2 separate regions of the Homo sapiens genome follow, and region 2 is linked to region 1. A link means that fine-mapping ties the variant in region 1 to the expression of a gene that starts in the linked region. Tissue or cell type: whole blood. Region 1 holds a variant in brackets; the other region holds the start of a gene. All regions are shown on one strand. Distances are from middle to middle.

The links. PIP is the estimated chance that this variant, and not a neighbour inherited with it, causes the effect.
Region 2: DNASE2 starts here. The variant in region 1 is fine-mapped to the expression of DNASE2 in whole blood (INTERVAL, PIP above 0.99).

The regions. Positions count from the first base shown.
Region 1 is chr19:11,879,574-11,887,005 of GRCh38, forward strand. No RefSeq gene overlaps it. Among named protein-coding and RNA genes, the nearest start is that of ZNF69, 4.5 kb to the right of the region's middle. RefSeq lists an enhancer at 1,748-1,927. The variant G/GC (reference allele first, on the strand shown) is at 4,373.
Region 2 is chr19:12,878,544-12,883,543 of GRCh38, forward strand. It overlaps DNASE2 (deoxyribonuclease 2, lysosomal), which reads right to left and starts at 2,906. Exons shown (of 6, transcript NM_001375.3): 1 at 2,747-2,906; 2 at 2,429-2,609; 3 at 2,259-2,337; 4 at 127-291; 5 at 1-36. The coding sequence starts at 2,832. RefSeq lists enhancers at 2,437-3,064, 2,724-2,833 and cis regulatory regions at 2,728-3,288, 4,028-4,528.

The DNA of each region.
Region 1 (7,432 bases):
TTCACGTCCCAATCGGGCTTAGTTATGATAGCCACAGGCCCACACCAGCTGCCACAGCACCCCTGTCCCATGGAAACCGCCTGACTCTCTTCTCCCCAAGCGTCCTGTCCCAGGAGCCCCCATCATCTCTGCTCCCCCGGGCTCCAGGCCCTAGAGCCGCGCTGCTGCAGAGCCCGGTTCCCAGGGCTGCTCCCTCCATATATCCACATTCATCTCCAGCTCTCCACCCTCTCTCCAACCAGCCAGGCCCGGAGGTACTGCAGTGTCACTGAACGTGCGTCCCTCAGCTGCCACCTCCACCACGATCTGGAAATCTTTTAAATGCACTTAAGTTATCTTAGAATTTTCCTTCCCCACTTTATACATAAACATAGGAGGAGAGCAGGGACTCTGCTGGTGTCTTATTCACACAATGGGATTGAGGGTGTTTGTGTCATGGAACTGATCAATGGGGTGAGAAGTAGCTGAATAACCTGCAGGGGGCAGCAGAGCCCGAGGCCGGTGACTCAACGCTGAGGCCAGTGTGGAGCCTGCAAAGGAAGGGAAAGGAGCCTTTCCTGGGGGCTTCCGGGCAGCCCGCCCTCCCCTACAGGTGGCCTCCAATTGCTCAGAGCAGCTCCAGAAGGAGTGCGGATTCCGAGAAGCTGAAGAGCCCTGGAAAGCAGAAGACCCACATGCACACGTATGTGTGGGGGTTCTGTCCTTTCTGGTGTTGTACCTCTGGAGCCTGGGGCTGTCTTCTGGGCAGGGTTTGGGGTTTGACATGCATGGGGCCACTGGGGTCAGATTTGTAAGATACAGTGAATTTCTTTAAGTTTTTCTTTAAAGATTTAGCCTGCTAACTTCCTCGTCTTTTGTTCTCAAACTCAACTTTCCTGTTCCTCCTTGCCCCTAGTTACTTTAAAACAGCCTACCCCGTTCCCATCAGCTCTAATCAATAACTCACATCTGTTCCCTTGGTTACCTGTACCCATTGTTCCCCCAAAACTGCACATCTCACATGCTCCACCTCTGTACCTCACATCCCCCTCCCCTTCTATATTTAGAAAAATATGTACAAGCAGCCAATCGGGTCAGCTCAGACTGTGCGGTCCGACCCCAGCCCATGGGGGAGTAACACAGAGATAGGGACCGCATTAAGGATAAAAACCTCCTGGTCTCCTTTGTTCTCTGTGCTCTTGTGATCTTGATTGACGTGAGTGGCACCCTTCTGCAGTAGTAAATTGCCTTGCTGAGAGAATTAAAATTTTGCCTGAGTGCTGGTTTTACTTCACGGCACCAAGCTTTTATTCCGGGAGCATTTTATATCCAACAATTCTAGGGGATCGTCCGAGATCCCCATGCTCCTTTTGGAAGAGTTCTTCAGTCACCCTACCCTGGGGAGACGCGTCCCACTGCCCCATTGCGGTGGCCTCAGGGACAGGAGATCGAGACCCACCCATTTTGACGAATAAACCCGGACTCTCAGCAACGCGGGGAAGAGAGGCTTGCAATACCGCAGCGACCAGGTAAACTCTGTGCACAGACCAAGGTGGGAAACGTTGCAGGGGCAACAAAGTAATTCTTTGGTAGTCGGAGGGGTGTGTCAGGGCATTCTGGGGGTTGAAAGTGCATGAATGGTAACAAGCACTACTGCTGTGCGGAGCGAGTGAGTCCAATCTGCGGTTCTGTGGTCACCTCACACGGCTTAGGGCAGCCCTGCGGGGGTCCTGTCACAGGTTTATACGGACCTGCCATCAATGCTAAGAGGAACCTGAAACAAACCTGCGAGGGAAGCGGCCAGAGTGGATGAAGCGAAAGAAGGGTGCAAGGAACCTCCAGCAGGTGGAGCTAAAGGATAGTGGAATTGAGCCTTAGCCACACTTCCAGTGAGGGATAGGCAAAAGACCTCCTAATATGAGGGGTTGAGCCACAAGGAACCCCCCAAATAGGCAAGAGATCCTTAATTTGAGAGGCTGAGCCACAAGGAACCCCCAAAATAGGCAAGAGATCCTTAATATGAGGGGTTGAGCCACAGCAAGCCCCCCTAGGCAAGAGATTCCTATCACGAGGGATTGAGCCTAGCCAGGACCCAGTATAGGAAATATTACAAGCAAAAAAGACAAAGTTAGCAACAAAGATATCCCCCCTAATAGTCCCCTAGGTCTCATGTTAAAACATTAGAAAGATAATGAAAAGACTAAACATAAGAAAAAGCAATTAGTGATAAAATATTGCTGTTCCATTTAGACTCAAGAACGAATCCTTGAACCCTTAGTTTTCTGGCCAGAATTTAAGTCGAATGAGGGATGGATTTGTGAACTTCTAATAGAAAATGTTGCTAGTAGAAGACCTGCCTCCTGAGAAGAAACAAATTATGCCCTATGTTAGTTGCAAGGAGTTGTCCTTTCCCCTCCTCCAAGGATTGAAAGGAGCAAGTCAAAAACTAATATTTGGAGGAAAATGAGTTGTACATGTGCCCTATTAAGATAGAACCATCTTTAATGAAAAAGACAGTGAAGGAAGGGGCTTGGGGGATCCTAGCAAAAAGAACAACTCGCAAGATCCCCTAGACCATTCCCCACCTAATACCCAACCCTTCCCCTCAGGCATCGCCCAGTAAGTCTGTTCTTCCCCAGCCTAAGTCCCTCTCCCCTAAAGAACTCCAAGCTCCTAATTCACCAGATGGCTTTTGCCAGGCTAGCAACATGAAGGATCTGCCGCAACATGTTGTCAGCGTTGTCTGGCCCATAGTGCACCCCTGCAGCGGCAAAGCCCATGCTCCTGCCCACTGGCTGGTCCAAGGTCCTGGCACTGTATTGACGGCAGCTCTGCATGACATGCGAGCCAGGCCCCAGCCTATGCCCCATGCAAACTACATTATAGGATATCTGCCTTACTTTGCTGAGGCTAAGTAATACGGGGCTTCAGCGATGGCTCCAAGCAGCCTGGCATCCCCGCAGCTAAGTTTCCTGAGCAAGAAGTAGATAATCTTTCAGCGGATATATCCACTAGCATTTATTATAGTCAGGCCAGTGTTAAAAGTGAAAATATCCACCAGAAAAGAACTCTGATTCTTTAAAGTCACCTATGTTAAAATGTACCACCAAAAAAGAATTACATGTGTATAAATATGAGGCTATTCTGTTAAAAATGATAGTTTAATGTTACTAGTAATTTGCTTAACCTAACAAGTTTCTTAACGAAAGATCCAAATCTAAAAAGGAAGCACACATGTTTAGATTTAACTGATTACCATACAAATGTCCGGCCAAACTTAAGAGAAACCCCCTTCAAAAATGATTAAAGGAAAAAGGATTCAACAGATGTTCAATAATAAATAGAGAAGTTCCTAGAGAAATAAAATTTAAAAATTGTTTAATAGTTTACCCAAATTTGTAAGCTGTTTGCACTTAGTCAAGCTTTAAAGTAACTGCAAAGGAACCATCTATACTAATCTATATTGATTCTAAATACACCTTTATCGTGGCTCATACATTTAGAAAATTTCAGACAATAATAAAGGTCAAAGCCTTGTTCATGAAGAGTTAATAACCCAAGTGTTAAATAACCTTCAGTTACCAGAAAAAAAAAAAAAGCTATTTTCCACGTCCCCAGGCACCAAAAATCCTATCTTTCAAGAGTTAAGAAAATAACCTAGCAAATCAGATAATCCGAACCAGCTGCCGTTTCTCCTGTAGGCACTGAAGGGAATTCAAATGTTATTTAAACCTCTTATGAAAGAAGTCCTATCCCACCTAAATTAGAGGACCCATTAAAGACCTCAAGCTATGTATAGCACAGTTAAAGTTTATATGTGTATGAAAATGTACATCCTTAGCCAAACAAGTCTAGAAACTTAGTTGCCATAACTCAAATGTCTTCTGTCTTCCTATTAATCCAAACTACCTCTCAAAGCAATCCACTGCCAACATTCCTACATACTTGGTTTATCTTCCACTTTCTCTTCCCTCAAAACTCACAATTTTCCAGTACAGGTGCGGCTCCTGGAGTTCCCAGTGCGTCAACACCGGCCTGAGGAGCTGGCCTAGTACTTCCCACCATTGAAACTGCAGTCTGGACAGCAGAGAAAGGATAGACCCATCACACCCGAGTCAAGAAAGCACCGCCACCCCCAAAGTCGTAGGCCATTATTCCAGGGGAAAACCCCCTCAAACTAAAGCTAAGAAAAATTTAACCTCTTACATCTATTCTATTACTCTTTCTTCTTTTCCCCTTCCAATGCTGACCACCTTGTCATTAATGTAACTCAATCAAACTCACCCCAAGTTATCACGTTTAATGCTATGTCTAGTCATACCCTGTAAAGATCTCCAAAGTCAAAGACAAGTCTCAGCCTCAGAAAAGTATCTCTGCCCCTTTAAGGTGAAAG[G/GC]CCCCCCCTACCAAGACTCTTGTTCCTTAACAAATATAAGAAAACAAGTCTGTCATAGCTAGAATGATGTCCTATGGACAACCAAATGTCAAGGCTAGACCTCATCAGCAGGTGGCTGTATATCCTTAAAACCATACATTCATTTCACTAAAAAAAGCACCTCCCCAATTGCCAGTATAATCAATGTAATCCCATACAAATTTCCACCTCTACTGACCCTAAACCTACTTTAAGTCACTTCTATGGAACAGGAGCCAACTTGGCCAGCACAGACCTCATAAGATCTTTCGAAATGCGTTTTATTAATCCTTCATTCTCTTCACCCCCTTCCTTCTCTTCTCCTTCTAAGCTTTCTTCTAATCAGACTGCCACCTGTTTTCTACCTAATGATACTACTAAAGTAAATATTGTAGAAGTAAAAGATTTAAGACAAACCCTAGCAATTAAAACAGGATATCAAGATGTAAATACCTGGTTGGAATGGATTCAATATTCCGTCCGCACATTGAACAAAAGCAATTGTTACGCTTGTATGCATGGCAGACTAGAGGCCCAGACTGTTTCCTTTCCACTAGGATAGCCCTTCAGCCGACCAGGCATAGGCTGTATGGTAGCTCTTTTCCAAAATTCCACAGCCTGGGGCAACAAATCATGCCAAGCTCTCTCTCTGCTATATCCCGAAGTCCAACAACCTGCAGGCCAGCCCCCAAAGGCCATTCAGCTTCCTTCTCCTGACGTCAATTTCACCTCATGTCTCTCACGACGAGGGGAGAATCTGGCGTTCCTTAGAAGCTTAACAAGATGCAATAAGCTTAAGCCCTTCCAAAAACTTACCCATCAGTCTGCCCTTAGTCATCCTCAAGCAGATGTATGGTGGTATTGTAGTGGACCTTTACTGGATACTCTGCCAAGTAACTGGAGCGGCACTTGCGCTCTTGTCCAATTGGCGATCCCTTTCACACTGGCATTTCATCAACCAAAAAAAAAGAAAAGCCACAACACCAAAAAATAAGAGAAGCCCCTTATAAGTCTTTTGACTCTCAAGTTTACATAAAGGCCATTAGAGTCCCATGGGGAGTGCCTAACAAGTTCAAAACCTGAGACCAAATAACTGCAAGATTTAAACCCATATTTCCCCGAATAACTATTAATAAAAATGTAGCTTCGATAAATTACATCTATTATAATTAGCAGCAGTTTATGAATTACACCAAGGATCTTATCAAAAAACAGCTGACCAGTTAAGGCCTACTAGCCAAATAGCTTAAGAAAACAGAATCACTTGACTGGGCGCGGTGGCTCATGCCTGTAATCCCAGCACTTTGGGAGGCCAAGGTGGGCGGATCACAAGGTCAGGAGATCGAGACCATCCTGGCTAACATGGTGAAACCCCCGTCTCTACTAAAAAATACAAAAAAAGTATCCGGGCGTAGTGGCGGGCACCTGTAGTCCCAGCTACTGGGGAGGCTGAGGCAGGAGAATGGCGTGAACCCGGGAGGCAGAGCTTGCAGTGAGACAATATGGTGCCACTGCACTCCAGCCTGGGCCACGAAGTGAGACTCCATCTCAAAAAATAAAAACCAGAATGGCTCCAGACATGTTATTAGCCAAAAAAGGTGGAGTTTGTGTTATGATTAAAACCCAGTGTTGTACCTTCATTCCAAACAACACTGCCCCCAGTGAGAGCATAACAAAGGCCTTGCAAAGACTTACCGCTTTATCCAATGAATTAGCTAAAATTTCTGGAGTCAATGACCCTATTTCAAGATGGCTAGGAAAGTAGTTCAGTCAATAAAGAATCATAGCCTCAATACTTATTTCTTTTACAGTCGTAACAGGTGTACTTATTCTTGTTAGGCGTTGTGTCATACCATGCATCCGTAGGCTAATACAAAGGATTGTACGAACAGCATTTACTGAAACCTCCCTTAGTTCTCCTCCACCTTATTCAAGTAAGCTTTTCCTTTTAAAAGATCAAATCAAACAGCAAAGCCAAAACACGTTAAAAAAGTTTAAAGAGAAAAAATCATAAGAAAATTAAAAGGGAGGAATTGTAACATACAGTAAATTTCTCTGAGTTTCTTTTTTTTTTTTTTTTTGAGACGGAGTCTCACTCTGTCACCCAGGCTGGAGTGCAGTGGCGTGATCTCGGCTCACTGCAAGCTCTGCCTCCTGGGTTCATGCCATTCTCCTGCCTCAGCCTCCCGAGTAGCTGGGACTACAGGCGCCCACCACCACGACTGGCTAATTTTTCGTATTTTTTAGTAGAGACGGGGTTTCACCATGTTAGCCAGGATGGTCTCGATCTCCTGACCTCGTGATCTACCCGCCTCAGCCTCCCAAAGTGCTGCGATTACAGGCGTGAGCCACCGCGCCTGGCCTCTCTGAGTTTCTCTTCAAAGACTTAGCCTGCTAACTTCCTTGTCTTTTGTTCTCCAGCTCAACTTTCCTGTTCCTCCTTGCCCCTAGTTACTGTAAAACAGCCTACCCCCTTCCCGTCAGCTCTAATCAATAACTCACATCTGTTCCCTTGGTTACCTGTACCCATTGTTCCCCCGAAACTGCACGTCTCACACGCTCCATCTCTGTACCTCACGTTCCCCTCTCCTTCTATATTTAGAAAAATACGTACAAGTAGCCAGTCGGGTCAGCTCAGATTGTGTGGTCGAACCCCAGCCCATGAAGGAGTGACACAGAGATAGGGACCGCATTAAGGATAAAAAAACCCCCGGTGACCTTTGTTCTCTGTGCTCTTGTGATCTTGATTGACACAAGTGGCACACTTCTGCAGAAGTAAATTGCCTTGCTAAACAAATGAAACTTTCCCCTAAGTGCTAGTTTTACTTCGTGGGACCAAGAATTTATTCCTAAAGCATTTTATATCCGACAGAGATATTCATATATATAAAGAAAATGTGGGCCAGGCGCGGTGGCTCACGCCTGTAATCCCAGCACTTTGGGTGGCCGAGGCGGGTGGATCACTTGAGGTCAGGAGTTCAAGACCAGTCTGGTCAACATGGTGAAACCTTGTCTCTACTAAAAATACAAAAAATTAGCCAG
Region 2 (5,000 bases), 1.0 Mb after region 1:
TATAGACCCAGGGGTAGGTGTAGGTCAGCTGCTTGCCTGGAGGACAAGGGGAGGAGGAAATGCAAGATCGTTCCAGGTTCTGGTCAGTAAACCCAGGACTCATCCTGTGTCCCTGACTCGACTTACCCATCTTCGAGAACTGAGCGAAGGGAAAAGACACACAGAGCAGGGTCTGCCCGTAGGTACAGGCGCTATGAGGCCAGCTGTATGCAGCAGAGGAGGCCGGTGGAGGGAAGTTAGGTACACTGTGGACCAGCCAGAAGCCCCCATCGTGGTCAAGGAGCAGGACACCTGGACCAAAAGAAGGCATTAGGGGAGGTCGGGCGCAGTGGCTCACGCCTGTAATCCCAGCACTTTGGGAGACCGAGACACACAGATCACCTGAGGTCAGGAGTTAGAAATCAGCCTGGCCAACATGGCGAAACCCCATCTCTACTAAAAATACAAAAATTAGCTGAGCGTGGTGGTGGACGCCTGTAATCCCAGCTACTCAGGAGGCTGAGGCAGGAGAATCGCTTGAACCCAGGAGGTGGAGGTTGCAGTGAGCTGAGATCCACCACTGCACTCCAGCCTGGGCCACAGAGCAAAATTTCATCTCAAACATAAGTAAGTAAGTAAGTAAATAAATAAATAAATAAATAAATAAATAAAAATTTAAAAAAAGAAGGCAGGCCCCACGCAGTGTAATCCCAGCACTTTGGGAAGCCGAGGAGGGCGGATCACCTGAGGTCGGGAGTTCAAGACCAGCCTGGCCAACATGGAGAAACCTCATCACTACTAAAAATACAACATTAGCCGGGCATGGTGGTGCATGCCTGTAATCCCAGCTACTCGGGAGGCTGATGCAGGAGAATCACTTGAACCCAGGAGGCGGAGGTTGCAGTGAGCCGAGATTGCACCATTGCACTCCAGCCTGGGTAGCAAGAGCAAAACTCCTTCTCAAAAAAAAAAAAAAAAAAAAGGCAATTAGAGGGTATTGCTCCAGGCCTCCCAGCAAGCTCATCTGCAATCAGGAACACCCTCAGTTTGCAGCGGGGCTTAGAGAGGGTGCCAGCAGTGTTAGAACCACAGCTGAGCTCAGTTTTTGCAGGCATAAATTCTTATAGTCCAGAATAACGCCAAGAGTAATGTAAGGTAGGGAAACAGGCCAGGTGTGGCGGCTCATGCCGGTAATCGCAGCACATTAAGAGGCCAAGGTGGGTGGATTGCTTGAACCAGGACTTAGAGACCAGCCTAGGCAACATGGCAAAAGCCCACTCTACAAAAATACAAAAAGTAGGCCAGGTGTGGTGGCTCACGCCTGTAATCCCAGCACTTTGGGAGGCCAAGGCAGGTGGATCACCTGAGGTCAGGAGTTCAATATCAGCCTGTCCAACCTGGTAAAACCCCATCTCTACTAAAACATACAACATTTAGCTGGGCATGGTGGCGCACACCTGTAATCCCAGCTACTCCAGAGGCTGAGGCAGAAGAATCGCTTGAACTGGGGAGATGGAGATTGCAGTGAGCTGAGATTGCACCACCGAACTCCAGCCTGGGTGATGGAGAGAGAGTGCCGCAAAAAAAAAAAAAAAAAAAAAAAGCCAGGCGTGGTGGGGGGTACCGGCAGGCCCAGTACTTGGGAGGCTGAGGTAGGAGGATCACCTGAGCCCTGGGAGGTCAAGGCTGCAGTGAGCTGTGATACTGCACTCCAGCCTAGGTGACTGGGTGAGACCTTGTCTAAAAGAAAATAAAATAGGGGAAATAGATGCCCAAGGTCTGACAGGGGAGATCTCCCACCCCACTATGGAGGTCAGGGGTTAGCTTGGAAAAATGCATAGGAACTCGGCTGGGCAGGGTGGCTCATTCCTGTAATCCCAGCACTTTGGGAGGCCAAGGCGGGTAGATCACTTGAGGTAGAAACCAGGAGTTCGAGACCAGCCTGGCCAACATGGTGAAACCTCGTCTGTACTAAAAATATGAAAATTAGCCTGGTGTGATGGTGCGCCTTTAATACCAGCTACTTGGGAGGCTGAGACAGGAGAATTGCTTCAACCCCAGAGGCAGAGATTGCAGTGAGCCAAGATTGTGCCACTGCACTCCAGCTTGGGTGACAGAGCGAACTCCCACCGTCTCAAAAACAAAGAAAAAAAAAAGTTGGGGGGAATAGATGCCCAGGGTCTGACAGTGCAGATCTCCCCGACCACCCCATGCACGTCAGGGGTTACCTTGGAAAAATGGGACCCGAGTCTCTCCCCAGCCCCCAATCCAGGCCTCACCCTTCGTGTGCCCACGCATGGAAGAGTCCTGAGCCTTGCTGGGTTGAGGCGGTTGGTCATTGTAGAGCAGGAAGGCGAGCTGCGGGCGGATAAACGGAGGCAACGTGAAATTCCTCCCAGGCAGGGCAGCCCTAGAGTTTCGCCCCTAGTTGGCCCGGGGCCCCCTTCACCTGGCTGGTGTTGCTCCGGTACAGCGGCTGCAGGCTTCGGCCCACGGCCCCCTCCGGGCTGTTGATGAGTGCCCTGCCGTCCCGCCAGCCTCCGGAGCTCTCGTCCAGATACTTGTACTGCAGCCCTCTCTGCGCCGCCTCCCCGGACCCTCTAAGAGCTGGCAGCTTGTAGACCACGAACCTGGAGGTCGGAGAATGCACAGAAATAGGAGAGAGGGAAGAGAAGGCACCCCAGGGTTCCCCGAGGAGGTAGCCATCCCGGTTGAGTGACCGCAGCCGGACCCCGGGGCGATGGTAGGCCCCCCGCTGCGCACTCACCAGTCTACAGGCTGCCCGGAGTCCCCGTAGCAGGTCAGGGCCCCGGCGGGGACGCACAGCAGCGCTGCCAGCAGCAGCGGGATCATAGCTGCTATGGGGCTGAGATCCAGGAATCTGTGTCGGGACTGCGGGGCGCTGGGTTACATCAGAGGCCAGGACTGGCACCTGGCGCCTTTCACTTCCCTAAACTTGCCTGGGAACCGGGGCGGGGACATCACGAGGGTACAGACTCCTCCCCCGAGACGCGATGCTGCGTTTTGGAGAGGCAAAAGGCAACGCTGAGTCTGCCCAGACCACGCCCACGACGGGCCCGGCGCTCCAGCGTCTCCTGGAGCCTGGCCACCGTTCCTTTTCGTGGTAGCTAATCCCAGCCCACGCTCTTCTGTCTGACCCAACTCCCGCCCGGGTTTCTGGATCAGGCACAAGTTTGTATTTTATTTTTTATTCCAGCCCTACAACCTGGGTCCAACTCTTGGGACCTTTGTTCTTCCTCTTTTTTTTTTTTTTTTTTTTTTTTTTTTTTTGAGACGGAGTTTCACTCTTGTCGCCCAGGCTGGAGTGCAATGGCACGATCTCGGTTCACTGCAACCTCCGCCTTCCTGATTAAAGCGATTATCCTGCCTCAGCCTCCCGAGTAGCTGGGATTACAGGCGCCCGACACCACGCCCGGCTAATTTTTGTAGTTTTAGTAGAGACGGGGTTTTTCCATGTTGACTAGGCTGGTCTCGAACTCCTGACCTCGTGATCCACCAGCCTCGGCCCCCGAAAGTGCCAAGATTGCAGAAGTGAGCCACTGCGCCCCTTAAGAAGCATTTGTGTTCCAGTGTATCTTCCCCTTTTTCTTTCTTTTTTTTTTTCCTTCCTTTTTTTTTTTTTTTTTTCCCGGACAATATCTCGCTCTGTTGCCCAGGCCGGAGTGCAGTGGCGCAATCTTGGCTCACTGCAACCTCTGCCTCCCCAGCTCAAGTGATCCTCTCACCTCAGCCTCCCGAGTAGCTGGGATCACGGGCACATGCCACTATGCCCAGCTAATTTTTGTAGTTTTTTTTTTGAAACACGGTTTCACCATGTGGCTCAGGCTGAACTCCTGAGCTCAAGGGATCCACCTGTCTTGCCTCCCAAAGTGCTGGGATTACAGGCATGTAATCCACGCCACCCAGACTCTCCTTTTTCATTCTGCACGTTTTCTCCAGGATCCCCTGAGCTAGCAAAGAGGTGACTGTATGTTTGTTTTTTGTCGTTTTGAGACAGGATAATGGTTTCTCACCCAGGCTAGAATGCAGTGACTCCATCACAGTTCACTGCAGCCTCAACCTACTGGGCTCAAGAGATCTTCCCAGGTAGCTGGTACTACAGGCCTGTGCCACCACACCCAGATAATTGTTCATTGCAGAGATGAGGGTCTCACTATGTTGCCCAGGCTGCTCTGGAACTCCGGGGTTCAAGTGATTCTCCCACCTCAGCCTCAAAGGATCATGGCAGGGCAAAGGGCTATGGGAATCTGAGTACTGGCTTGAAACTGCCTTTGCAAAAATTATGACAGAAAATTATGTCAGTGAAAGAGCTCTGACCTAACCAACTCCATCTTGCCTTTAATCTCCAAACTGCCCTTGCTTGGTCATTCCTGGAGTGGGGTCAAGCTAACTTTTTTTTTTTTTTTGACACGTTGTCTCACTCTGTCGCCCAGGCTGGAGTCCAGTGGTGTGATCTCAGCTCACTGCAACATCCGCCTCCTAGGTTCAAGCAATCCTCCTGCCTCAGCTTCCTGAGTAGCTGGGATTACAGGCATGCGCCACATGCCCAGCTAATTTTTGTATTTTTGGTAGAGACTGGGTTTCACCATTTTTGGTAGAGATGGGGTTTCACCTTGGGGCTCAGGCTGGTGTCGAACTCCTGGGCTCAAGTGATCTGCCCGCCTCAGCCTGCCAAATTGCTGGGATTAAAGAGGGAGCCACCATGCCTGGCCCCAAGCTAATTTTGGGAGGAATTTAGTTTATAGCTTAAATGATAATAGCCCTTCCCCAAACTAAACTGCCTTTGTAGAAATAATGAAAGGGCACTAGGTTAGGAGGATGAGAGGAGCCTGAATTCTGCTAAACTGTAGGTGTAGTAGTTAAATTATGACCAGCCATTTTTCCGGCCGGGTGCGGTGCCTCACGCCTGTAATCCCAGCACTTTGAGAGGCCGAGGCTGGCAGATTACCTGAGGTCAGGATTTCGAAACCAGCCTGGCCAGCATTTCGAAACCCCATCTC